Linked DNA regions of Homo sapiens. The protein of the gene in region 7 purifies or fractionates together with the protein of the main gene of each other region. This does not show direct contact. Each region holds a gene or a part of one and is shown on either strand. Other genes may lie near its edges. The genes, in order: ZNF454, NDUFS4, RTRAF, AGPS, NNT, SLC39A12 and ABCD3.

Region 1 (4,159 bases), on a different chromosome or scaffold from region 7:
TGGAGTGCACTGGCACAATCTTGGCTCACTGCAAGCTCCGCCTCCTGGGTTCACGCCATTCTCCTGCCTCAGCCTCCCGAGTAGCTGGGACTACAGGCGCCCACCACCACGCCCAGCTAATTTTTTTTGTAATTTTAGTAGAGACGGGGTTTCACTGTGTTAGCCAGGATGGTCTCGATCTCCTGACCTCGTGATCCGCTGGCCTTGGCCTCCCAAAGTGCTGGGATTACAGGCGTGAGCCACCGCGTCTGGCCCATATTCTTATTCTAAAGATGCTAGGACTGCTCAAAGCGTTTTAGGAATTTATAGGACTTTTTGGCAGAATAGTCTTTTGAATAATTTCATTGGTAAAAAAACCAAATGTCATAAAAGAAAAAGAGTCTAGTAAATCACACCTCCCCAGAAAAGTGTTCCTACAATGCCCTTCTTTGAGCTCTGTGTGAGATACTGCCCTGATATAGTTTGGATGTATGTCCCTTCCAACTCTCCTGTTGAAATGTGACCTCCAATGTTGGAGGGGGGGCCTGGTGGGAGGTGTTGGATCATGGGGGTAGATCCCTCGTGAATGGCTTAGTGCCATCCTCTTGGTGATGAGTGAATTCTCGCTCAGTTGGTTCACGTGAGATCCAGTTGTTTAAGAGTCTAGGACCTCCCACTTCTCTCTCTTGCTCCCTTTCTCACCGTGTGATACACCTGCTCCCCCTTCACCTTCTGCCATGATTGGAAGCTTTTAAAGTCCTCATCAGAAGTGGATGCTGACACCATGCTTCCTGTACAGCCTACAGAACCGTGGGCCAATTAAACTTCTTATCAATTCCCCAGCCTCAGATATTTATTTAGAGCAATGTAAAAAGGGACTAATACATGCTTTTACCACTTCAGATCCCTAATCTTACTTGCTAGTGAAAAGAGTACAGGTTTTGATTTCACAGGGACCTGGGTTCCAGTCCCAGCTGTGACATTTATGTGACCTTTAGCAAGTTATACAGCTGCAACACCCACCAGGATGAGCCGGATATGGGGCGGGGTTGGAGGGTGTTGGTTGGGGAGAGGCAACTGAGGTCAGTGTCTGGGTGGGACTGGATTGGGAATAAAGCTCCCGGTCTGAGGAAGCAAACATGCCACACTCTTCAAATCCAGAAAGCAATTTAGGGGGAAGAAACCCCCACTCACCTGGACCATGGTTGGCAGGTGGCTGACAGCCATTCTTTCTTCTCCGATGAGCCCTCTTAGGGACAGGCAAAGTGCTATGGAGGCAGGTGTGGAGCTTCACACCTGCAGGACTCCTCAGGCTAGAAGGGTCCACACACCTGCTATTAGGAGAGAACTGGGTCAAAAGCTCTCATACAGCAGTCCAGAGCGAGGCAGTGAGCATTCACATCCTGGGAGGCCTCCAGTACCCCAAGCAGTGAGTGTTTTGGTTCCTGTTTGCTCCCCATTCTCTCTCCTCCTTCTGAGGGTACTATACATTGACTTTTCCCTGCAGAAAGCCTGCTCCAGGTCCAGTTCTCATGCCTTCCACCCACCCTCTGGTCTTTCCCTTCAGCCTCACTGAGCGATCTCAAGAGAATTCTTTTTTTGTTTGTTTGTTTGAGACAGAGTCTCGCTCTGTCACCTAGGCTGGAGTGCAGTGGCACGATCTTGGCTCACTGCAACCTCCGCCTTCCGGGTTCAAGCGATTCTCCCGCCCCAGTCTCCGGAGTAGCTGGGATTACACGCACCCGCCACCACGCCCGGCTAATTTTTTATATTTTTAGTAGAGACCGGGATTTCACCATGTTGGTCGGACTGGTCTCGAACTCCGGACCTCAGGTGATCGGCTCGCCTCGGCCTCCCAAAGTACTGGGATTACAGGCGTGAGCCGCCGCACTCGGCCGAGAATTATCTCTTTAACAAGTTATTCAGCTCCAGAACCCACCAGGATGTACCCGAAAAGGTGGGAGCGCTGGGGAGAGGCAACGGAGGGCAGTGTCTGGGTTCGACTGGATTGGAAGACCGCTCCGCTCTCCCTCTGCGGCTTTGGAACAGCTGCCTTATCTGGCAGTGACAGGAGAAGAGGAAAAGGAGGGTGGTCTTCTTCCTCCTCAGAAAGGAGGCTAAGAAGGCTCTTCACTGTCGAAGCCTCTCAGGCAAACCCTTCTCTGGCCTCAGTGTTCTCACTCTCTGGGGCCCAGTCTGGGTGGCCTGGAGTCACGGGTGGGCAGAAGCGGCGTTTGTGTGAGCTGGGCGGGAGGGGAGAGGGAAGGGTTAGGAACCCTAATCACACACAGCCCCGTCCCGCCCCTGCCGCTTCGCCAGGTCCCTCGGGGGCTGTGGCAGGGGCTGCGCAGCGGCTGCCTCCGGCCTTGGCGAGTTCCTGGCGCAGGACTCGGAACCACGCCAGGCGTGTATCTATCACCTGAGAGGAAACCCTGGGCTTCTCGGAGTCCGCTCCAAGACACATGCCAGAGGCCCTGGCTCCATCTCCTCCACAGGCACTCACAGACTCGACCCTCAGCCCAGGATGACCACCCCTGGCCGTCCTCCCTCTCTGGGATCAAATCTCAGACATACATTCCGGGAAGTTTGGGGCATTCGATCAGCGTCCTCCAGAATGGACCACAACCCGCACCTCCTCGGCTTTGCCTCCGCCCTTCTCCCCAGACGACCTCACGACCGCTCCCGCTCTCCCTCTGCGGCTTTGACCACCGTGCCTGGTCAGCCCCGTGTCGCTCTTCGAGGAGCCTCTGCCGGCGGCGAGAGATCGCAAGCGCCACATCGCAGTCAGAACACAATGAGCTGGAGTCTGCAGCCGGGAGCCGAACTGCGCTTGCGCGTTGCCCTGGGAACCCTTGGGCCGAATTCCCACAAGTCTCAGGGCTGCTGCAGTTCCGCCGGCCAGACTCCACTTCCCAGAGGGACAATCGGCGGAGACAGTGCTGCCTTGCGCCTGCGGGAACAGGGCCCGGCCCCGGCGCTTTAGGCGCGGAAACTACCTTTCCCAGAGACCCCTCCACGCCGACCTCAGCGCGCTCATTGCAACTTACAGAATCGGTTCCGTTCCGTTCGCTTTAGAACCAGGTCTCTGCCTTGCACTAAGGCGCAGGAAGATGCAGATCAGCGAAAAGCTGAAGATGGGGCAAGGGAGGTTAGTCCAGGGGAGCGACGCCCGATCGCTGACGAGAGAGGATCGGGAGGGTCCGGAAGACGGAGTGGGAGGCGACAGGGCGCGTTCCTGACTGGGACCGCGCCGAAAAGGCCTGGAAGGCAACAGAATTGCCCCTTGGCCTGGCAAGCGCCCGACACTTCCAGCCTGGCACTGCGGGCGGGCCAGCGTGTGCTGGGGTGGCGACGCCACAGCCACTAACGCGTGTGCGGTGCGGGAGGACAAGGATGTCGGGCAGGGATGTCCTGCTTGGCACCTCAGGACAGAGCCCATGGTGGCTGGCGGCCCCTGGAATGTTCGGGACGCAGAACACTTCGTGCTTGGGAACTTCTCAGAGGTGGGGACGAGGGAGAGGAAGGCGCCTGGATGCCAGGAAGTCTCCATCTTGGACAGCTGGGTGGTATTTAAGAAGGTGGTATTTATTTTTGTCGACCATATTTTGCAGAGACTGGCAAGGATGAGATGATGCCTAAGAATATCCAACTGGAGATACTTAGTTGCTTTTGAATAGGTAATTTGCATGGAGCTCAGGAAGGAAAGATGAGAGGGTTTTAACTTTGTTGGTCGTTAAAAAAAATCAAGAATGTGACCTGTTTGTCACATACGGAATTGTTGGCCACGTTTTAGGAAGCAGTGTCAGTGACTACAGCATTCTGTTTGGAGTTTTATTGAAGATTTCATTCCATAGACACTTTGGAGCACTTATGTGTCAAGTGCTTGACAAGGCCAGGGTCAGCCGCTGTGCAGCCCCTGTAGCAGTTCCCAGGGACCCGGCAAAGCACCAGAGGGGGAGGATGTTGTGTGAGTATCGCTGGTAACCCTTCTCTCTCGCCTCCCTCGTGACTCCAGGTCACTCAAACTGGGCTCCAGAGAGTAAGAACCCCGAGTCCAGGGGCTGGAGAAATAGCTGTGAAAACCCTGCACTCATGGAGTTTTAATTGTACTAGAGGAGGGGTCAGACAAGTAGAAAGTATTTATCTGGTAGTGATAACACTACTGTTAGGGGTTAGGGTG
Region 2 (3,500 bases), on a different chromosome or scaffold from region 7:
TTTAACTAGAATCAGCCCTCCTACTTAACATTTGGGCCCTATTCCATTATGGAGAATTAGGTCACTGACTTCATTAGTACCACAAGAATTTATTCCAATACACTGTTAAAAAGCAATTTAATGGCCAGGCATGGTGGCTCACACCTGTAATCTCAGTACTTTCGAGGCTGAGGTGGGTGGATCGCTTGAAGCCCGGAGTTCGAGACCAGCCCGGGCAACAAAGCGAGACTCCATTTCTACAAAAAGATAAAAAAAAATTGGCCAGGTGCTGTGGCATGCACCTATATTCCCAGCTACTTGGGGGATTAAGGTGGGAGGACCGCTTGATCATCCCAGAGTTCAGGGCTGCAGTGAGCTAGGATCACATCACTGCACTCCAGCCTGGGCAAGGGGGCAAGACCACATCTCTAAAGAAAATAATAAATAAAAATTAAAAGTAATTTATTATTATTTATTATTAATCACAATATCTCAGGAACTTATAAGTTTCCCTCAAGTTAGCTAATTTCTAAATTGACCTAGTTCCTACCCCCCTTACAAAGAAAAAAGATATATATATAATATATATTACAAAGAAGTTTATTGTAATTTTAAAACAAGTTAAAGTGTCACTATATTATAAACACCATTCTTACAGTATCTTGGATAAAACAGTATTCCCCCTTATCTGAGGGGGGACAAGTTCCAAAACCCCTAGTGGATGCTTAAAACCACGAATAGTATCAAATCCTATATTTTCCTAAACACATAGACCTATGATTAACTTATAAATTAGGCATAGTAAGAAATTAACAATAAGTTGTAATAAAATTGAACAATTATAACACTTACATACTATAAGAAAAGTTATATTAAGGGTAGTCTCTCTCTATCTCGAAATATCTTATTGTACTGTCCATCGGATAACTGAAACCGTAGAAAGCAAAACTGCAGATAAGGGGGGACTGCTGTATACATAGCTTTGAGTTCCATAACAGTGCTCTGAAATTCAGTCATTTTTATCTAGTAAGTAGTACTCTGAAAAAGACTATGTCATAGTTTACTGTGCTAAGCCACACTTATCTGAATATCTAAATATATAATGTGTATCTTTGAGCACAGTGGTACTTAACAGCGTCAAAAAGTACTGTCATAAGCATATTGTACATAAAAGAGTTTGAAAATCATATTTAGAAGAAAGATCTACATAGAAAAAGATAGCTGACAATATTCACATTAAAATAAAGTACTCACGTTGATGCCCAACCCATCAAAGGATTTTCCCATCGCTCTCTGGTATCAAACTCCATCTTCCATTTCTTTGTGTTGTTTACTCCAGACTGCATGTTATTGCGAGCAGGAACAAAGATCCTGACTTTTCTAGTTTTTATATGCTCTTCTGGAACTCCAGTTAAAGTAGTGATATCCTACAGAAAAACAAGAAAAAAAAACACGTTTCAAACAGCCTACATACACACTAATGTACTTTTGTTGTTTCCTATATTCATGCAACTCTATTCAGATTTGTTCATAAATTGAGATAAATTTTCTGGCTTATTTCACTACCATTCTGATACTTTACAATGTAAATTACTATTTAGATACCTGTAAATGGTTTATTTAGGGGGACGTAGTGGAGACAGTGGAAAAGGATCGTAAAAAAAATTTACGCCCTTTTGTCCAACAAAGCATTGGTATTTTCTGAAGAGACTGTTTGCTCGCAGAAGAGCCTGTAGTCAACAATGCTCTTACTTTGTGAGCAAGTGCGAACTAGTCAGAGGAGAAAAAATACAAAGGAAATATGAAAAGGGGATATAAAAAGTAAATCCTTATTTGCATGTTTATTTAAATCTTAAATAGAAGACAATCTGTTACTTATAATTTCTGTGTCAAATTGCTTACCCACAAGGCATTACCTTGAGAGGGAAACCTGAACCTTTTTGTAAAGTTGTAAATTTAACAACTTTAATTAGCATTGTGATGTATCTCCCCCCTTTGGTGAAACCTACTAAAGAGAGAATGATACAATCAAACACATTCTGCAAAAGTAATCCCAAAAAGTGGCATAATTTTTGCCAAAATGTGAGATGAAAACAATGGTAACTTTAACTCGATTTTTCTATAATTTTATCCAGTAACAAATGCTCATTTTGAAAATGCACAGAATTTTGATGCCCCAGAGTAGATACATTTATCAAAACATAGTAGCAGTCAGGACACAAATTAGTAAAGTAATTCAGAGTTTAAAACTTATTTATTCCTAGTGTTCCATTATTGGAATGCTAAGCATGTGGGAGTTATTTATATCCTACTGCTCAAGGCCATTGCCAAGGTCTGATTGCAAAAATTCTAAAAACTGCAACCTCAGACATAAATGGGTTAAATCTCCATTTAGTAATGGTAAAATACTTTATCTGATCAAAGTAAATCACATTGGGGTCAACCATATGCTTATTAATGAAGCATTTTAAAATCATGGTTCACTTACTAACGTAAATTTTGGATAACTTGGTAAAAACAAGAGTTAATATAAAAATGATTATACCAAATTTGTGAAAACTAGAAAACGTCTGTGAATTTTTATGTCATTATAATACACACCCTAATGAAGACTAATGTTTATTTGTAGTTTCAATCTATCAATGCTATGAACCAAATAACTGGCAAGAATACTTAGCTGGTAAGTATTCTTAGCTAGTACGTACTAGTGGGAAAAACACGAAACACATTTCTGACTTGACTATTATCTCTATCCACAAGATTAAAAACCAATTCTTTAAAGTTATTTTAGTTGGCAACCAATCCTCTATTTAACACAATACCTTTCCACCTGCGTCAATAATTAGGTGTGGCTACTTTGTCACAGCTTGTTTACAGAAACTATCAAAATTATCCATATAAATATTTACACAAATATGCACTTCTAATATGTGCCTACATTTACTTATTTTTAAAGTTTCCCTACATCTAGTTTAAAGTAAAAATGAGTGAAGCTGGCACATAATTTTTAAAGGTGTGAAATACTTTAATTGGTAATTTCTAATATTCAGGTTCAACTTCAAAAAAAGTTTAAGTATTATTATATTTAATGACTTCCTGAAGCATATATTCTCTATTTAAGAGCTTAAAGTGGCTCAACTCCTGGGAAGTCCTCAATGTTTAATTCCTCCTTTGAATTCACTGTAATACTTGCAATCTGCCATAGTAGTTTATTATTTAATATTATATATCTTTAGATTAATCTGTCTCGTTTCCTCAGCTACAGCTTAAGCTGGGTATAAACAAACACTATAAGCATGTTATAGAATTATGGGGTGGGGCATCTTTTCCAAATTCCAAAGCATCCCCTCTGTTCTGAGCTGAGCTCATAAAAGCTGGAGCTGTAAGTTATGTCTATTTTTAAAACTATATGAAAGGAAACACATTAAACTCTTAACACTGGTTACCTCAGGAAGATTAGAGGAAACACTTTTACTTTACCTACTTCTATACTGTGATGCATATATGCCAAAGTGATTAAA
Region 3 (3,500 bases), on a different chromosome or scaffold from region 7:
ACTGCCTTCCAAAGCATAGTTTTGCTGAAGGAATGAATGAATGAATGATTGACTTTATTACACCAGAACAATTTACTGTCTGTTCTATAGGGAGGGTGAAATAAGCTGATCTTTAACCCAACTTCCAGTGGCTCGATTCATATACAACGAGCCAGTAAGAACCTTTAAAAGAAAACAGTGTCTTTCAGAGATACTGCCCTGGCATTAGTAACCTTTTAACACTGCTTGGCCTGCCTAAAGGGGCTGGAGGACAAAAGGCATTGGGAGATGGGGGAAGGGCGCAGGGAGGACAAACAACATAGTTGTGCCCAAGGCATTCACTACAACATCATTGCTGCAGGAGGCAGGTGTTATCAGACACTGCTGCTGCTGACCTGAGGACAGTCTCTCCACCGCTGCACAGCCAGTGAAACTTTAGGCATCTTTGGATTTCTGATATAATCTAAAAATGTTCCATATTTTCTCTTTAAGGGGAAGGTAGTCATGGGATATAGCTTTTCTCAGCCTACAAGGTAGGACTGAAAGATACCATTTCAGTCACCTGTACCTTGAACCTTACACTCCAACAGAACCCCCTGTCCCTTCACCTGGGCAGACTGACAAGCTCATGCAGACATCCACGCATGGACCCTTCTCCCCACCTACCGTAAGAGCACAGGCTCTCAAGTCAGACTGCCTGAGCTCAGTCACTTACCAACTAGGTGACCTTAGCCAAATTACTTTCTCATGTTTTATGCCAGGAAATTGAATAAAACAAGAATTTACTCTGAAGAAATAAGAGCAAGGATAGAATTTAGATAGAAAAAGAAAACTAATTTGTAGTGAGGTGTGTTCCTTCTTCTCCAGCATGAGTCAAAATAATCCAGTAAGTTTCATATGGGTAACTCATTTTAAATAAACTTCAACGGGCCACAAGCATGATTTGTGGACTGTGCATGAGCTATTTGTGGCTTTTTTAAGGTACAAAGTGAGAGGAACATGAAGTTTTTCACTCAAAAATGACCCCCTAGCCACTGAATACATTCAATTTGCTTTAGGAAGCACTGAAGTAAGCTATCCTTTCTCTAAGTTGTAGAACGTAGAATGGATATCTTAAACAGATACATGCAAAGTTTAAAATCACGGCCATACCAGAAGAAATGTTCATTAACAACTTATTTAGGATTTATAGAAACGTACCTCTTTTGTTTGATTTGCCTTAGCAACTGCATCCTGTGTCAGGCGCTCCTGAACCAAAATCCGAATTGCCTAAGAAACCCAAAAATATTTTTACTTTTTATAGGCTGTGTACCTGTCATCCTTTCTTCTATGAGCCCAGAGAATAAGGATGCTCATTTTGATGAAGTCAGAATTACCTAAGTTCATTAATAAACTCCCCATTAAATTAAAAATAAAAAAAACCCACTAATATAACGTAACCTTTCACACTTCTAGTATTTTAATAATGTTGAATGGTGCTTGCAACAATTAAAACCATTTTTTGAATAGGTAATGCACGTGACTGGTAAAAAACAACTTTAAATACAGCAAGACACATGGTAAAAAGTAGGTCTCCTTCCTACCTGAGCCTTGCGATCCCCTACAGATTCCTTACCCTCACTAAAACTGCGAAATGACGAGCATGCTTAGCACGAATACACATTTTTGACACAAAGGGTAGCAGATCATACATACTGTCTTACACTTTGCTTTTATCACTTCACTCTAGTAAAATATTTTCAAACCTTTCAAAGGACACCGTTGGTGGTTTTAATCACCAAGGCATTTCATTATGGTAGGCATGCATGCAAGTATCCATACACACTTAAAAATCAAATTTTAAAAAAATGGAATTTTAATTAGGAAGATGACAATTACAACTCAAAAATAAGTGTGAAAACTTAAACTATAATTTTTAAATAAAAAACCAAATGCTATCTTTGAAAAACCGAATTCAAACAATGTTTAACAGTTATTGCAGATGTTATTAAATAGTCTGGTTGCCAAACAGTTAATATACTGATGCTTGTACTTGGCAAACGTACTAAGATGTTTTCCATATTATGTTATTGTTTGAATGCCTCTTAAAATAACTCAAAAGGGACAAATGTGCAGCAGGACTAGAATTTTATAGCATTTTGTTGTAGTTGATTTATACTTTATCCCCTTGGGTTTTGAAGTCTAACAAAAGCATCCCAAATACGCTATGCATTGTCTGACTCTCCTCTCACTTACTTTATGATTAAAGCTGACATGATCACTATAGAACAGTTCCAAGGCAATTTACATAATTGTCGGAATAAAGAACAAGCCTTTGAAATAGCTAAATTTCACTAAAAACATTTTTGTCTTTTGGCATGCAATCTGGATTGAGAAAATCCAAGTTAACATTCAGATTCAGTATAGAAAATTTTAATAACTTAGGAATACAACAGTCTTGTTAAAACTGACATTTAATAATAAAAATCTAAAAAGCATGGTAAGTTATGGCTTAATCTCTTCTGGGTAGAGTGATATTTATCACAAAGTAGTTTACATGCACAAGGTCTAGTTAAAAGCTTTTAATCTCTTATAAAATTTCCAAGTCTGGTATCTTAAGTACCACTCCCCTGATCCACACCACTGTACTTTCACGATTACTAGGAATAAATCTTCTGAAGTTTATGATTTCTCTCAGAAACAAGAGACCTCTTTCAGATTACTGGGATTCCTGAAGTATAGTTATGAACTGAGTGGCCTATCTAGCATCGGGGACAGAAAGATTCATTTCTCAAAGAGATTTTGGGGTTATATATTTTTGACCAAATTCACCATTACTCATTTGGCATTTTCGACCATCTTAACAAATGCAGACTATGAATCATTAAAAAGACTAACTAAACAGAAGTAGGGTAATGTGGGAAAAACAATGGACCACAGGGTTATAGTGCTTAAAATCCTGGCTCTGTCATTTTCTGTGTCATCTTAGACATTATCCTCATTGAGTCTCAGTTTCTTCATATGATATATATTTTTAAAAAGATATTAGCAGCTGTCTCTAGGATTGTTGGCAGGATTGAATGAGAACATCTTTGCAAAGGATTTAGCATAGTGCAGGCAGAAAACAGAATCCAAATCAGATAAAACCATGAAATCTACTTTATGTTTCATATTCTTCTGTGTATTTTAGTCATTCAACCATAATTTTAATATCAATAGTTAATATTTAGAAAATAAAGACATTTTTCTATGTGCACAGTTTCTGTCAAGAATCAAGAACATGAAGCTGACCTTAAGCATTACCAGGTAATCATCATGACGCTGAATCTGAAGCAGGTTAGCCAAAGCCATCACACCAGCCTTAAAATCAGGATTATTTACTATAAAAGATTAAAAACAAACAAAAACTTACAACCCTGCAAACGTATAATTACAAACATATTTGTGAACATACAAAAACATTTTTAACTTTTCGGTAGCAACAAATCTCTTAGTTTTTAAAACTGCTACTCACAAGAGAAAAAAGAAAGCCCTGTAGACTA
Region 4 (4,100 bases), on a different chromosome or scaffold from region 7:
AGGGAGACTTGGGTTCCTCATGATTATCTATCAAGTATATCACCCTCTGTGGAAGCTTTTGATGTGTCATCTAATACAAGTTTCTGTGTTCCCTCATATTTTGATGAAAATCTCAAAGTACCAGTACAGGACTAGATTTTACCACTAGTCGTCTAACCCCGAACCAAAGACCAGGGCTTCCCACCAGCTGTAACCTATGCAACAAATGGGTTACAGTCGTGCCTGAACTATCGATGCCTTCAGTCCTTGGAGCAGCCACACAGGGCATCCCTGACCAGTCACCTTCAACCATCATCTTGGTGTGCCTTACAAACGTTACTATTTTTTCTCTGAATGCTGTAAACCAAGCCATTAAATCTAACCATAAGGAAAACCTGCCCTCCTTACTTGGTTCTAAGAGTGTGAATCTACATAAAATGTACAATCACATATATGCATACAAATGAGAACACATAAATGTACATGAAACCATTTAGAAAATTTTAAACCTAATGACAGCTATTAATAATATAACCTCAATTGAAGCCAGGAGACGAGATGAAATCCTTTATTCCTCCCCTCCCCACCACTCAGTAACCAAGTTATGGAAAATTTACCTCCTAGCATTTTCTCAATTAAGTTGCCTACTCCCAATAATATGCCTTAGTTCAGAATCCCAGCATTTCTCCCTGGAATAATAGTCTCCTAGTCTCTCTGCCTTTAGACACTGTGAAAATTGCAGCTACCATTCTTTGAAAGGTTATGTAACAGGCATTGCACTAAACACTTGATCATTTAACTCTATTTTTTTCAATTCTCACAGCAACACTGCAAAACAGGATTACTGTTCCCGTTTTTACAAATGACGGTGACTGAAACTCTCAGAGGTTAAGTGATTTGCCCAAGATCATAGAGCTGTAACGGTGTAGTGGAAATTGAAATCCAGGTCTATGTTCCCAGCCATTATACTGCCAAAATGCTCAACTGTCTTCAATTTGCTCCCAGTGTGACCTTTATCAAAGGTAAATCTAATCATGTATTGCCCCACGTAAAATCCTGTAAACAAGATTCACCTCTCCAGTCTTCGTCCCCTGTCATTCTCACCCTCTCCTACTACACTTGAGTCTCAGCAGTTCCCTAATTTGTCTCTCACTTCTTTACCTGTGAACATACTGTTTGTATGCCAAGAACAATTTCCCCCTTTGGCAAACTATTAGTAATGCAAACATCCAAAATTTACTCAGACAATCTTTACTTTGGAACATCTTTGCACTAACAAACACAAACCCAAAACTGGGTTAAATGACCAGGTGGTATAGTTCCCAGTTAAGTTTCTTATAACGCTGTATTATAATTTTACCTACTAAGCTATTCCTTCCTTAAGAGTAAATACCGTATTTTTAAATTTCTGTATTGCTGGTACAGTGTGTATTTTGTAAAGACTCATGTATGTTGAATTAATTCATCAGAAGCAAGTATAGCTTAGGAACTTGGCCATGAAGTCAATTTGATGTGCTTTCAAATTCTAACCTGTCACACAGCATATCTGCTAAGACTCCAGCAGACTTAATTTATTCATCTGTAAAATGGGAGAAAACCGCACATACCTCATAGCTTGGGAAGAAACAAAGGATTTAGCACACTTTGGCACACTTAAAAGTACACTTTAAACATTAGCTACTTATTTTTTTCACTCTCGGTTTATCCATTTATCCACGGTGACAAAGCCACACGTCAGAAAGTAGCTTCTCCTAATAGCCTTCATCAGAGATTGAGGAGATCGAGACCATCCTGGCTAACACGGTGAAACCCTGTCTCTACTAAAAATACAAAAAAAAAAAAAAAGATTTCTCCAAAAACATCGAAAGTCAAGATCTCTTACAAACATCCCTCATCGGTTAGACTCTTGTCTTTTAGCTTCTGGTTACACAGAGCTCAGTAGCTATACCACCACACCTTAAACCACTAGCTAGTGTTTGCAGTTTATGGCTTCTTACCATTCATCGGTTTCCTCCCTCAAAGTCAATACATCTTGATCCTAAGCAAGTGGAACTTACCCCACAGAAACCAGTCAGCACCTTTTTCCAGGGCACCACCAGTTTCCCCCACAGCAGGCTTTCGCGAATGAGAGAGATTCCTATGATCTATCATCTAGTACAAATTTATATCTCCTCGGAGAAAAATAGAACCTCTGCTACCCATTCCAAGACCTCAGCACCAAAAGTATTAATTCAAGATAAAAAATGAATTCCTGGCACTAAAAGCTCAGGAAAAAGGAATCCTTTAAACCCTTCTCCAACGAGAGTTCTTCAAGCCTGTTACCCTCACATAGTGACCAAAATCCACCATCCCATCCCGCCCCCTTCCTGACAGAATCCAGGGTCTAGTCCACTCTCTCGAAAGAGAGGTGGGTCCCTACTTTCAGGGACCGGGATGCCTTCCGCCCACCCGTGTCACTTCCCTTCCCACCTCGCCTGTGCCCTCCTGCAGCACAGGCCCGGCCTGGTCCCTCGACGCTAACTCCTTCCACATACCGCTACTCACCGCTTCTTTGGGATGGTGCCCGACTCCTGCGCGGCGGGAGTGGCCGTGGGCGCTGCCGTGGCCGCCGACGCGGCTCTCCGCGCTTTGCACTCATTGGTACTCAGAGCCTCCCGGGGCCGGCCCAGCAGATGGCCAGAGAGAACCCGCAGCCTCCGCCCGGCGCGGTCCGGGTCCGGGTCCCGGTCCCGGTCCGCTGCAGACCCGTAGCTCGCGCCCGCGCCCAAGCCAGTCCCACCCGCTGCAGCCGCCGCCTCCGCCATGGCTACCGCCTTGTGCTGCCGCCCGGAACCGCTGGGCGCGGGTGAAAGGTCACTCAGAGCGGCGCCCGGCGCGACCATTCGCTGCGGCGCATCCCGGCAGCCACCGCGGCGACTTGGCGGCGGGTGCCATGCGTCTGGAGCTTCACATTCTCTGCCCCCCACCCACCGCGCCGGCGCTCCCTTGTCACGCCTCGGGAAGCGCGCACCTGCCAAGCAGGTGAGTTCGAGCTGACTCCCGGTTGGCCCAGCCCGGTCCAGCTGGACCGAGAGCCAAACCACGTCCGCCCTCGAGGTGTCCTAGAACCCTGGGTGGTGTCCTCGGGTGTGGCCTGGGGGCTTTCGAGGGCAGATGCCTTGGAGCAGGAGAAATGGGCAGTGCTACTGGACCTGATGGATCCAGCGGCATCCTTTTCCTGAAAGAGATTCTAATGTTCCACCTGTGCTCTTCCTCCCTGCGGGGTCACCAAAGTAACTCAAAGCTGACCATCATTGCCTCTAACCATTAGAGCAAATAGCTCTATCATTTTCTTATTTCTCACCACCTATTTCGTGCCTGGCACTGTGTTTAATGCTAGATCACAAGTAAGTACAGAAACTGAGTTGCAACTTAAGTTCTCATTTCATTCATTACTGGATCCTAACCCCTTCCTAACTTTAATAGAGATAAAGTTTCTTATTGCTACAGACAAAAATTACCCAAGAGCTGTGAAGACATCTCAGTTATTTACAGATTGAATTCATTTCTGGAAGATAGCACGTGAAAAGTGCTCCTCACCTGTTTCAGCCGGTGTCTTGCATAAGAATTAGCTTAGACAAAAACTCACATACACTGGCCATTGTCATTCTCCATCCTGTCACCACTTTCACATCATGCTTTCCTAACAAGAAAAATATTGGCAGAGGAATCTGAAGAACACCACATCCATGGGACTAGAGACTAACAATTGCTCTCTTGGGTGTTGCCAGCTTCTAAAATTGAGATTATGCCTTTAGAGTGAACTTCCAAAGAGGCCCAGACTGGTTAAAAACTCTCAATTAAGGGCTAAGCAAATTGCTGTTGGAGGGCCAGCTCTAGTCTGTGGCCTGTTTTTACACAGCCCTCATGCTAATGGTTTTTGTATTTGAGAAGGGTTGTTAAAAGAAAACAAGAAATTTTTTAAAAGAATATGCAACAGAGACCTTATGTGGTCCCAGAAGCCCCAAAATATGTATTACCTGGCCTTTACAGGAGGTCCGAATGTCTTCTGAAATTTATATACGAAGAGATACCAAACCATTGAAAACAGTCCAAATGTCTAGCAACAGAGAAATGGTTAG
Region 5 (3,500 bases), on a different chromosome or scaffold from region 7:
TGGGGAATACTCTTTATAAATTTAAAAACCTAAAGAAAACCATTTTTAAAAAAGGATAAAATGAGAAATTACCCATGCTGACATTTCAAGAACTAGAAACAAGTCTTCTTCCCTCCTCTCCCCATATCAGCATGCCATAGGCTTTGTTAACATTCAAATCCTTCAAATCCTCCCATTTAACTTTAAAAGCCACTTTCTGATTCCTCAGGGATCTAGAACTAGAAATACCATTTGACCCAGCCATCCCATTACTGGGGTATATACCCACAGGATTATAAATCATGCTGCTATAAAGACACATGCACACATATGTTTATTGCGGCACTATTCACAATAGCAAAGACTTGGAACCAACCCAAATGTCCACCAATGATAGACTGGATTAAGAAAATGTGGCACATATACACCATGGAATACTATGCAGCCATAAAAAATGATGAGTTCATGTCCTTCGTAGGGACATGGATGAAATTGGAAATCATCATTCTCAGTAAACTATCACAAGAACAAAAAACCAAACACCGAATGTTCTCACTCATAGGTGGGAATTGAACAATGAGATCACATGGACACAGGAAGGGGAATATCACACTCTGGGGACTGTGGTGGGGTGGGGGGAGGGGGGAGGGATAGCATTGGGAGATATACCTAATGCTAGATGACGAGTTAGTGGGTGCAGCGCACCAGCATAGCACATGTATACATATGTAACTAACCTGCACAATGTGCACATGTACCCTAAAACTTAAAGTATAATAAAAATAAATAAATAAATAAATAAATAAATAAAAGCCACTTTCTGACAAACCGCAAGTTTAAGTAATAATGAAAATCTGCTGCCCCCTGCTGGTCATTCAAATTCATCAACTGAAGCAAAATCAAACTAAGGGTTAAAAGTTTACTTTTACAGAAAACTGTATTTCTAGTACAATTTCATAAACATTTCTTCTTCACAAATGTTTCTTCTTTCTGTCACAAAGCCTGACACTTTTCAAATAGGATACATAAACCTTCACCTTTCCAAATTCCCCAGGTAATTTAGGCTATTTAATTTTAAAACCCCTTAGCTTGTTTTGAATTTGGGCTATCAAATCCTTTGTTTTGCAATATAGCCTAAGAAACAAAAATATTTTTTACTATGAAAAGATACTTCAGCCTTCCAAATTACAATGAGATTTTCAGTTAAATCATAAGAAAAATCCTGAGTTGTAAAATAAGCGAGTTTTTTAAAATATTATAATAAAAGAATGAAGGTAGAGTAAGTATCTGATATGGTTTGGCTCTGAGTCCCTACCCAAATCTCATGTCGAATTGTAATCCCCACATGCCACGGGGGGACCTGGTGGAAGGTGATGGATTATGGGGGCTGACTTCCGCCTTGCTGTTCTTATGCTAGTGAGTTCTCACGAGATCTGGTGCTTTAAAAGTGTGTGGCACATCCCCCTTCACTCTCTCCCCTTCTCCGCTATGGTAAGATGTGCTTGCTTCCCATTCACCTTCTGCCATGATTGTAAGCTTCCTGTGGCCTCACAGTCATGCTTCCTGTTAAGCCTGTGGAGCTGTGAGTCAATTAAACCTCTTTACTTCATAAATTACCCAGTCTGAGGTAGTTCTTTACAGCAGTGTGAGAATGGACTAATACAGATCCCTTTCTTGTCTAAATTATTTATCAGTGTAAAATCACGTTCTGCTTTCATTTAGTTTCATTATTATTTAGAAAATAACATCCATAATTTGAAAAAAAAAGTTCTACTCAAACCTTTAATTATAATATTTGCAGAACATCTTCTTGCCATCAAGAAGAGAACTTGAAACAAACAGAAAAGCTAGGAAGTATTAGTGTTGTTACTTTTTTCTGTTCTTTTAAAAAACCATCATGCTGACCACAAAACTTCTAAGGTAGAAACTCTCACAGATGACCAACAGGAGTGTAAATTAGAACAACCTTTCCAGAAACATGGCTATAAGTATAATGAGCCTATAAATTCTAGGAATCTATCTTAAGACAAAAATCTGAAATGTCAAAGATATGTACAAAGAGAAATCAAAATCAAACAACTTCATATGTATAGCATTAAGGGCAAATTAAATAAATTTTGTATATCCATATGATGGATCACGATAAAGTCTCTTAAAATAATATTTTAAAAGAATTTTTAATGACAAAAAGTCAACAATATAGTATATAAGTTTTTTTAAATGTAGGACAATATACAACACGATCAGACAAGTAAATACACAGATATGCCATACATAAGGAAATAAACCAAAATCTTACCTGTTTATCTCCAGATGGAGAGAGGCACTAGAAGATTTTCATCTTTCTATTTAATTTTCCTAATTATTTACAGTTGGGTACCTTAAAGGCAGTCTTGGAAATTTATGCAAATGAAATACTCTGCTATGTCTGCTGAAGAGAATTCAAAGCTACCATACTCTTTTTTTTTTCTTTTGAGATGGAGTCTCGCTATGTCACCCAGGCTGGAGTACAGTGGCATGATCTCAGTCACTGCAACCTCTGCCTCCTGGGTTCAAGCAATTCTCTGCCTCAGCCTACCAAGTAGCTGGGATTACAGGCACCCACCACCACGCCTGGCTAATTTTTGTATTTTTAGTAGAGACAGGGTTTTACTATCTTGGGCAGGCTGGTCTTGAACTCCTGAGCTCGTGATCCACCTGCCTTGGCCTCCTAAAGTGCTGGGATTACAGGTGTGAGCTACCATGCCCAGCCTACAATATTCATTTTTATGGGTAATAAAAGAAATGACATGCACATCCATGTTTTCAGGAAGCCATTTCCTTTTGTTTCATGTATGTGTTGTTTCTTACCACACACATGATGTATGACAGGATAGCACCAGACGAGCCTATGAGTGCACCCACGATGGTCAGCAGATTGTTGTTGAGCAGGAAGCCCTCTGCACACAGGGCCCAGCCTGAGTAGCTGTTCAGCACAGTGATAACGACGGGCATGTCAGCACCCCCAATAGCAGCTGTCAAAGTCACACCCTAGAACAACAATCAAATCAGAACTCAAAATTAATAACATAAAAATAAAACCTCTGACATTTAACATTTTGCTCCTTAATTATTCTAGTTTTCCCATTAATATATTTACATATAAGTTCCACTTCCGGTAATAAGTGTCTCCCATCTGACCAACACTTCCACAGGTATAACAACTATAAACACTGAGCCACCCACCCCCCTAAAAAAAAATCCCTACATTTTAAAAAAACACTTTTCAGTGATGAAAAGCAGGCAGAAACTGGAGAAGCGTCTACATTTGGAAAAATACAATGACACTAAGTGAATTTCCCAGTTTTTATGGCTTTAGACTGAGGGCAATCCCCTGTTGGTACCAGTTAAGGAAATTATAAAATATAAGCCCACAGTCTTACTGACTTGAAGATCCTGAAGATAGCATTTGAGATGACTAAGGCAGCTGGAAAGTAATAAGGGGAATCCCACAAAGAAGCAGGCTAGAGGGAAGGAGTCCC
Region 6 (3,500 bases), on a different chromosome or scaffold from region 7:
CCATGCATCTTTCTCCAGTTTGTTGTCAAGAAGTCGAATAGTTTCTAGTTTTACAATACCTTCTCAGAGAGTAAGGTTATTCTATTACAAACTTCTGCGCCCTTGGTCTTCGCTTGCTGCTCTTGTGCCATTTAGGTCATTAAGTAAATTTCTTCTGAAATCACTAACATAAATGTCCTTACTGGGGACTCATTATATTCTATAAAATTTTGAACACAACATATTTTTTATAAAGAAAATGAAAATTTAGGTTATGCAGCCAACAATCTTTAAAACATCTTTATTCCTTCCTATGTAATTTTGAAATATGTTTGTACTTGTGTTGATGTTATCAGATTTCTACAGAAGCTTTACAAACATATTCAAAAGCAGTGGTTTCTAATCTTTAGTTTTGAGAATTACTTGCAGGGCTTCTTAAAAGACAGAGTTCTGGGCTCTACACTTGGGGTTTATGATTCAGTAGATTCTGGGTTGGGGTCTGAGGATGTACATTTCCAACAAGTTCCCAGGTGGTACTGCTGCTGCCCACAGCCCTTGGAAAGGCCCAGGCACAACCCTTGGAAAATGATCAACCTAATAATATAGGCAGAGTCCTCAAATCTGGTGTCCCACGTTAGGATACCATCAAGAATCACAAAGAAAGTCACACGTTGGAACAGAGAAGAATTATTGGAGAAGAGGTTGTTGTGTGTGTTTTGCACAGAAAATGATTATTGGCATTCTTAGAAGATGCATGCCTTAAGTAACCCCTAAATGTTAAGAAATGAATTATTCTTTATTCAAATAAGGTCTCCATGAAGAGACCGTATTTGTTCTCTTCCTGAGAGTTGGCCCTAATTAAGGAAACTTCACAAACATGGATTAATATGGAGATCAACTCTTGTCACCTGCAGTTGAATACAATAAACATGAGTCTGAAAGAGTCAACTTCAACAGATTCCTATTATACATGGCAGAGGTAACAGAAAATAACTTTTAAGATACATAATAGCAAAAATATGTGCCTATTTTTGTTCAACATTGTATCTCTCATGCCCAGGATGATTAGCGGTGTGCATAAAATGCTCAATATGTTTTCTGAATTATTAATTCACTCAATCTGAACCCAAGGGAGGAAAAAGCAATATATTTCATTCCCCTATATACCTTGGCTTTGTTTTTATGTCTACAGAGATACACTTGTAGAAAAAGAAAACCGTAACTACGTGGTGGAACTAGAATATTTTTACTTTTCAAGATAATACACAATACTCTTTAAGTTTTCTACAACTCTAATAAAACTTTCACAGCTGGGCTTCCTTTGACAGTAGCAAATGCTTGAATAAGAGAAACAATGGCAATACCTGATCCCAGGAAACTGGACCATCCTCAGACTCTTTTTCCATGGATGAAGAGAAATTAGAATAGTCCTGATCATGGGTTATTATGTTGTTTTGTTTCCTTTGAAATTGATGGATTTTCTCATTTTTGATACAAGTACTTCTGGTCCAGAGAGTGTTGAGGAGTTGGTCTAGTTCTAGAAATTTCATATAAAATCTGGTGTCACATAGAATAGATAAGTTCCGAATAGTCACAATTTCACATAGCTACAGCATAGATATTCCCTTACAAAGAATTCTTATCATTTTTTAAGCCCTAGAGATGACAGAATGGACATTTCCACCCACGAAAATGCCTTCCATTGCGTCAAGGATTTTCTTTTTCTATAAAAATGTAAATTAAAGATGAAACTGGCCTAATCCTTAGGAAATTATTCCCTGGAGGCATTATACATCCATCATAGATTAATTATTACTTTAGTTAAGTCAATCAAATTGTTTTCCTTTTAAGTGTATATGCAAAAGAAAGAAAAGCCGTGAAAGGGAGATAAGATTCTAGAAACAAACTAGATCTTGTTTTCTAATGCAACTATGGTATGGCAGTCAATTTAAAGATCACAGATTAGTTTCCCTCAGTATAGCTCTAGGCTTTTAAAAAATAATGTGTACAAAGAAGAAATAAACATAACAGTAAATTTATATGGATTTATACATCTTCTTACTTATGATTAAAACAGAATTTTCCTAAGTGTTATCAACAGTGGTAGAAAAAAAAAAAGCAGTCAATAAATACATCTCAGTATTTCCAGATGTTGGATTCAGCAAATACAGACTTTAAAGGAAATATTATGTTTAAGGAACTAAAAGAAATTATATTTAAAGAATTAAAGGAAAGTTTGACAATAAAAAATCAATAGCAATTTTTAATAAGGAAATCTAAATTATATAAATGTCCAAATGAAAATTCTGGAGTTTAAGAATATCGAGACAATAAGTGAAACAAAAAGTTCACTACAGGAACTCAACAGCATATTTGAGAGGGCAGAAGAAAAAAATCACTGAACATGAGTATAGATTAACAGAAATAATTCATTCTAAAGAACAGAAAGAAAAAAGAAAAAGAACAAGTGTTCACAGACTTGTAACAAGAGCAAGTATACCAATGTATATATATTAGCAGTCAGAGAAAGGAGAAAGAGAAAGGATTAGAAAAAATACTAGAGGAAATAATGGCCAAAACTTTCAAAATCTGATGTAAAAGCCTGAACATACGTGTTCAAGAAGCATATCAAACATCAAGTAAGATAAATACAAAAAGATTCACACCCAGACACATTACAGTCAAACTGCTGAAAGTCAAAGATAAAATCTTGAGGACCAGCGTGGTGGCTCACACCTGTGATTCCAGCTCTTTGGGAGGCCAAGGCGGGTGGATCACCTGAGGTCAGGAGTTCAAGACCAGCCTGGCCAACATGGTGAAACCACTTCTCTACAAAAAAATATATATATAAAAATTAGCCAGGCGTGGTGGCAGGCACCTGTAATCCAAGCTACTCAGGAAGCTGAGATGGGAGAATCGCTTGAATCCAGAGGGTGGAGGTTGCAGTGAGCTGAGATGGCGCCACTGCACTTCCAACCTGGGCAACAGAGTGAGAATCTGTACCAACAAAAACAAAAAACAACAACTACAACAGAAGATAAAATCTTGAAAGCAGCAAAAGAAAATGACTCATCACCTACCTGGGAGCATCACTACAATTAATGGCTGATTTCTTATCTAAATAATGGGGGACAGAAGGGTAGTGAAATGATATATTCAAAGAGCTACAGAAAAAAACTGGAGGAGGCAGAGTAAGATGGCAGAATAGAAGCCTCCACCAATCATCTCCCCACAAGGACACCAATTTAACAACTATCTACACAAGAAAAGCACCTTCATACAAACTAAAATTCAGGTGAGCCCTCGTTATACCTGGTTTTAACTTCATATTACTGAAATAGGCACTGAAGAGGCAGAAAAAACAGTCTTGAATCTCTGATGTCACCCCTCTCCCACCTCCCCAGTAGCAGCAGTGTGGTGCAGAGAGCATCTCTGGGTGCTGACAGTAGGGGGGCATGGCAATTTTGAGGCATTGAACTCAATGCTGTCCTGTTAAAGCAGAAAGGAAAACAGGACCAAAC
Region 7 (3,500 bases):
AAGGATTACTACCAAAGTGGAAGAATGCTTTTGCGAATGTCTCAAGCTCTGGGTCGAATAGTTTTGGCTGGGCGTGAAATGACTAGATTGGCCGGGTAAGATTAGTAATAATGAGCTGTTGCAGAAAATAATTTTTAAAAATATATTATCCTTAATGATTGTATCAGTTGAGATTAAGATAAGGGGTCAACATTTCCTAGCCCAGGAAGGTGGTTTTGATAGAAAATTAAGGAAGATTTTTCTGATGGTGAACTTTTCATGTTTCTTGAGGACAGCTGGTTTGCGCAGTACAGTAGATTAGAGGCTGTCAAGTTGTTTGCTCCATGGACACGTATTTGCTAAGTTGGGAAATGTTGAATCATGGCAGTCTTAATTCACAGAAAACTATGTTTATGAATAGAATTTTCTCATTTAAATTTTCTTGTCCTCTACCATACCTTTTTTTCTTGGATCTTAGATACCGGCAACCTAGCAAAACAGATGAATAGAAATGAAGTTGACTTTAATGGGAAAAAAAATGAGATGTTATCTTGTATCTGTAGGCGTGCTTGTGAATGTAGTCATATTATCTAGTAGTAAAATTATCTTTAGACAGTAGAATGAAATTAAATATTAAGATTTCAGTATTTCAATCTCCAATATAAAGGGCATGGTATGGTGTAAAAAACACCATAAATTTTAGGTCACCTGAAGAAGTTTGATGACTGAATATCTTTCCTAGGCCTGTGATCCATCTTCATATTTCTCTTTTTCCTCCTTCTTAGCTCCTGTGGCAGTTATGGTCTTCATGCAATATAGAAGTTGTTAACTACTATGAGTAGAGTCTCTTTCATGAGAATACTAACATTCTTCCTACTTGTTAACTTTTCTTATGGCTTTACAGTTCATGGTATATAAGGTGCTTCTGTTCCTTTAGGGTGTTTCCTTTCACTCTCTCTCTCTCTCTCGCTCTCTTTCTGTGTGGGTGTGTGTGTCTTTCTCTTTCACTCCCTCCCTTCGTCTCCCTGCCCCCCTTTCTTTCTCTTTTTTCCACTTTGTTGAGGTATGATTGACATATAAGAAACTGTTCATATTTAGTGTATACAATTTGATGAATATGGGAATAAGTTATACACGTGTGAAACCATCAAGACCATAAACATTCATCACCTCCCAAAGTTTGCTTTAGGAGGTTTCTGCTTTTTATTCAGAGAAAAATCCTGTTTTCTTCTTCGATGCAGAATACTTTCTCTTTGGCGATCATGGTCATTTTTGTTATCTCCAACCTCTTGTCGTTAGTTTTGATTTTTCTCTATTGCCACAGTGATTTCTATCTAATAATAAGAACTCATCATCTTTCCCCTCTTCAGAGTAAGAAAGAGGGAATCTTTCAGATTCTTCCGTTTGCAGGAAGGCAGCATGCATTCGGCATACATTTAATAAATGCCTTCCTTGGATAGAAAGACCAGCTTTATACATGGCTTTATAGGTCACTTCAGCAAGAGATCAGAGTCCATACTTCCTGGGTCTAAGGAATATACTAGTAGTGGTCCTTTTGTAGTATCCAAGAGAAACCTCCTGAAAATTCTCAGCAAATAACTGCCTTGACTTGGCTATTAATGAAGTATCTGTTGAGTTGGGGATCCTATGGAAACCTCTTCCTTCATCCCTATATTCCTGCTCTCCTACTGAAACATAATAAAGCACACATGTTATCATTAATACTTTATGTTGATGAGACTGTTAGGTTACTTCATTTATACTAAATTATAATTTTAGGAACTTCAGTTTGTATAAAATAAAAGATGTGACAATAGTCTGGAGTTTTGATTATGGTTTCCTTTTCTAAAATTTTAGTTTTACTGCTCGGATTACAGAATTAATGCAAGTACTGAAGGATTTAAATCATGGCAAATATGAGCGCACAATGGTCTCACAACAGGAAAAGGGTAAATATGAGTGTCACAGTTTAAGGTCACAATTTTAAGTGTTTGCTGACATAATATGATGCTTTAATACCTATTTTCCATTTAAGGTATTGAAGGAGTACAAGTCATTCCCTTGATACCTGGTGCTGGAGAAATCATTATTGCAGATAACATTATAAAGTACGTACAGAAAAAGGTCTTTTAGCACCATAAATGTTTGTTAAACTTCATAGTAGTCTTTCTTTTTCAGCTTACAATTGCTTAGTGTTTAAAATTATTTCTGCTTTTTTAAAAAACAGCTTAGAGGTATCATTGACCTAAAAATTGTGTATATTAATATTTAAAGTATGCAACTTGATGCTTTGATATCTGTGTATGTTGTGAAATGATTACGTTTTGGCTAATTAATTTACCTATCGCCTCTACATAGTTAACCATTTTTGTGTGTGTTTAGTGAGAATTTAATTTAGATGTGTCTTAGCAAATTTCAGGTATACAATATAGTATTTTCTACTATTGTCCCAGTACAGTGGATCTACAGAATTTATTCTTCTGGCATCACTGAAATGTTGTGCCATTTGACCAATATTACCCCCATTTCCTCTCTCTCTAACCCCCTGGCAACCACCGTCCTACTCTCTACTTCTATGAGTTTGACTATTTTAGATTCCACATACAAGTAAGATCACATAGTGTTTCTCTTTTTGTGTCTTGCTTATTTTGCTTAGCATAATGTCCTCCAGATCCATCTATGTTGAAAATGGCCCAGTTTCCTTCTTTTTTAAAAGTGGGGTAATATTCTATTGTGTGTATTTTGTGTGTATGTGAATATATACACACTGTACACACTATATTTTCTTTATCCTCTCATCAGTTGAAAGACATTTAGGCAGTTTCCATATATGGACTATTGTAAATAATGCTGGAGTGAACATGGGAGGAAGATTCTCTTTGAGATACTGATTTTATTTCCTTTGGAAATGTTCCCAGAAGTGGGATTGCTAGATCATACGGTAGTCCTAATTTTAATTTTTTGAGGAACATCCATATTGTTTTCCATAATAGCTGTACTATTTGTAGTCCCACCAACAATGTACAAGGTTTCCTTTCTCCACATCTTTGCCAACACTTACCGTTTGTCTCTTTGATAATAGTCATCCTAACAGGTGAGAGGTGATGTCTCATTGTGGTTTTGATTTGCATTTTCCTGATGACTGAGATGTTGAGCACCTTTTCGTATGCCTGTTGGCCATCTGAATTTCTTCTTTTAAGAAGTGTTTAAGCTCTTTGCCCATTTTTTAATCAGGTTATTTGTATTTTTGGTATTGAGTTGTATTAGTTCCTTATATACTTTAAAGTAATTCTCTTTTTAAAAATTTCCTCTATAGGTTTGATCATGTTCCTTTAGCAACGCCAAATGGAGATGTTTTGATCCGAGACCTTAATTTTGAAGTAAGTTTTTAAATGATCATATAAAAGCTTAAATCATCTTTAAAATGTGAACTGAAAAAGATTACCTGAATATTTAAAGTAACTTTAAGGCTCGACTTAGTCTCTGAATCCACAGAATTGCTTTAAAAAGTAAGTCTTTGA

What was found.
Region 1: the proteins of ABCD3 (region 7) and ZNF454 fractionate together in Homo sapiens (co-fractionation; one large-scale study listed by BioGRID). This does not show direct contact.
Region 2: the proteins of ABCD3 (region 7) and NDUFS4 fractionate together in Homo sapiens (co-fractionation; one large-scale study listed by BioGRID). This does not show direct contact.
Region 3: the proteins of ABCD3 (region 7) and RTRAF purify together in Homo sapiens (tandem affinity purification; one study listed by IntAct). This does not show direct contact.
Region 4: the proteins of ABCD3 (region 7) and AGPS fractionate together in Homo sapiens (co-fractionation; one large-scale study listed by BioGRID). This does not show direct contact.
Region 5: the proteins of ABCD3 (region 7) and NNT fractionate together in Homo sapiens (co-fractionation; one large-scale study listed by BioGRID). This does not show direct contact.
Region 6: the proteins of ABCD3 (region 7) and SLC39A12 purify together in Homo sapiens (co-immunoprecipitation; one large-scale study listed by IntAct). This does not show direct contact.

What each region holds. Positions count from the first base shown.
Region 1 is NC_000005.10:178,939,839-178,943,997, reverse strand, and holds the start of ZNF454 (zinc finger protein 454), read right to left. Parts: upstream 2,801-4,159; 5' UTR 2,554-2,800; intron 1,314-2,553; 5' UTR 1,207-1,313; coding exon 1,174-1,206; intron 1-1,173. UniProt on the Homo sapiens protein: May be involved in transcriptional regulation.
Region 2 is NC_000005.10:53,644,139-53,647,638, reverse strand, and holds part of NDUFS4 (NADH dehydrogenase [ubiquinone] iron-sulfur protein 4, mitochondrial isoform 1 precursor), read right to left. Parts: intron 1,407-3,500; coding exon 1,234-1,406; intron 1-1,233. UniProt on the Homo sapiens protein: Accessory subunit of the mitochondrial membrane respiratory chain NADH dehydrogenase (Complex I), that is believed not to be involved in catalysis. Complex I functions in the transfer of electrons from NADH to the respiratory chain.
Region 3 is NC_000014.9:51,999,546-52,003,045, reverse strand, and holds part of RTRAF (RNA transcription, translation and transport factor protein), read right to left. Parts: intron 3,339-3,500; coding exon 3,250-3,338; intron 1,249-3,249; coding exon 1,180-1,248; intron 1-1,179. UniProt on the Homo sapiens protein: RNA-binding protein involved in modulation of mRNA transcription by Polymerase II. Component of the tRNA-splicing ligase complex and is required for tRNA ligation.
Region 4 is NC_000002.12:177,391,473-177,395,572, reverse strand, and holds the start of AGPS (alkyldihydroxyacetonephosphate synthase, peroxisomal precursor), read right to left. Parts: upstream 2,801-4,100; 5' UTR 2,784-2,800; coding exon 2,524-2,783; intron 2,519-2,523; exon of another isoform or gene 2,449-2,518; intron 1-2,448. UniProt on the Homo sapiens protein: Catalyzes the exchange of the acyl chain in acyl-dihydroxyacetonephosphate (acyl-DHAP) for a long chain fatty alcohol, yielding the first ether linked intermediate, i.e. alkyl-dihydroxyacetonephosphate (alkyl-DHAP), in the pathway of ether lipid biosynthesis.
Region 5 is NC_000005.10:43,658,680-43,662,179, reverse strand, and holds part of NNT (NAD(P) transhydrogenase, mitochondrial), read right to left. Parts: intron 3,010-3,500; coding exon 2,830-3,009; intron 1-2,829. UniProt on the Homo sapiens protein: The transhydrogenation between NADH and NADP is coupled to respiration and ATP hydrolysis and functions as a proton pump across the membrane. May play a role in reactive oxygen species (ROS) detoxification in the adrenal gland.
Region 6 is NC_000010.11:17,975,918-17,979,417, reverse strand, and holds part of SLC39A12 (zinc transporter ZIP12 isoform 1 precursor), read right to left. Parts: intron 1,517-3,500; coding exon 1,344-1,516; intron 1-1,343. UniProt on the Homo sapiens protein: Uniporter that promotes Zn(2+) import from the extracellular space to the cytoplasm across the cell membrane. The transport activity is temperature dependent. May play a role in neurulation and neurite extension.
Region 7 is NC_000001.11:94,487,889-94,491,388, forward strand, and holds part of ABCD3 (ATP-binding cassette sub-family D member 3), read left to right. Parts: intron 1-3; coding exon 4-95; intron 96-1,836; coding exon 1,837-1,928; intron 1,929-2,014; coding exon 2,015-2,087; intron 2,088-3,295; coding exon 3,296-3,359; intron 3,360-3,500. UniProt on the Homo sapiens protein: Broad substrate specificity ATP-dependent transporter of the ATP-binding cassette (ABC) family that catalyzes the transport of long-chain fatty acids (LCFA)-CoA, dicarboxylic acids-CoA, long-branched-chain fatty acids-CoA and bile acids from the cytosol to the peroxisome lumen for beta-oxydation.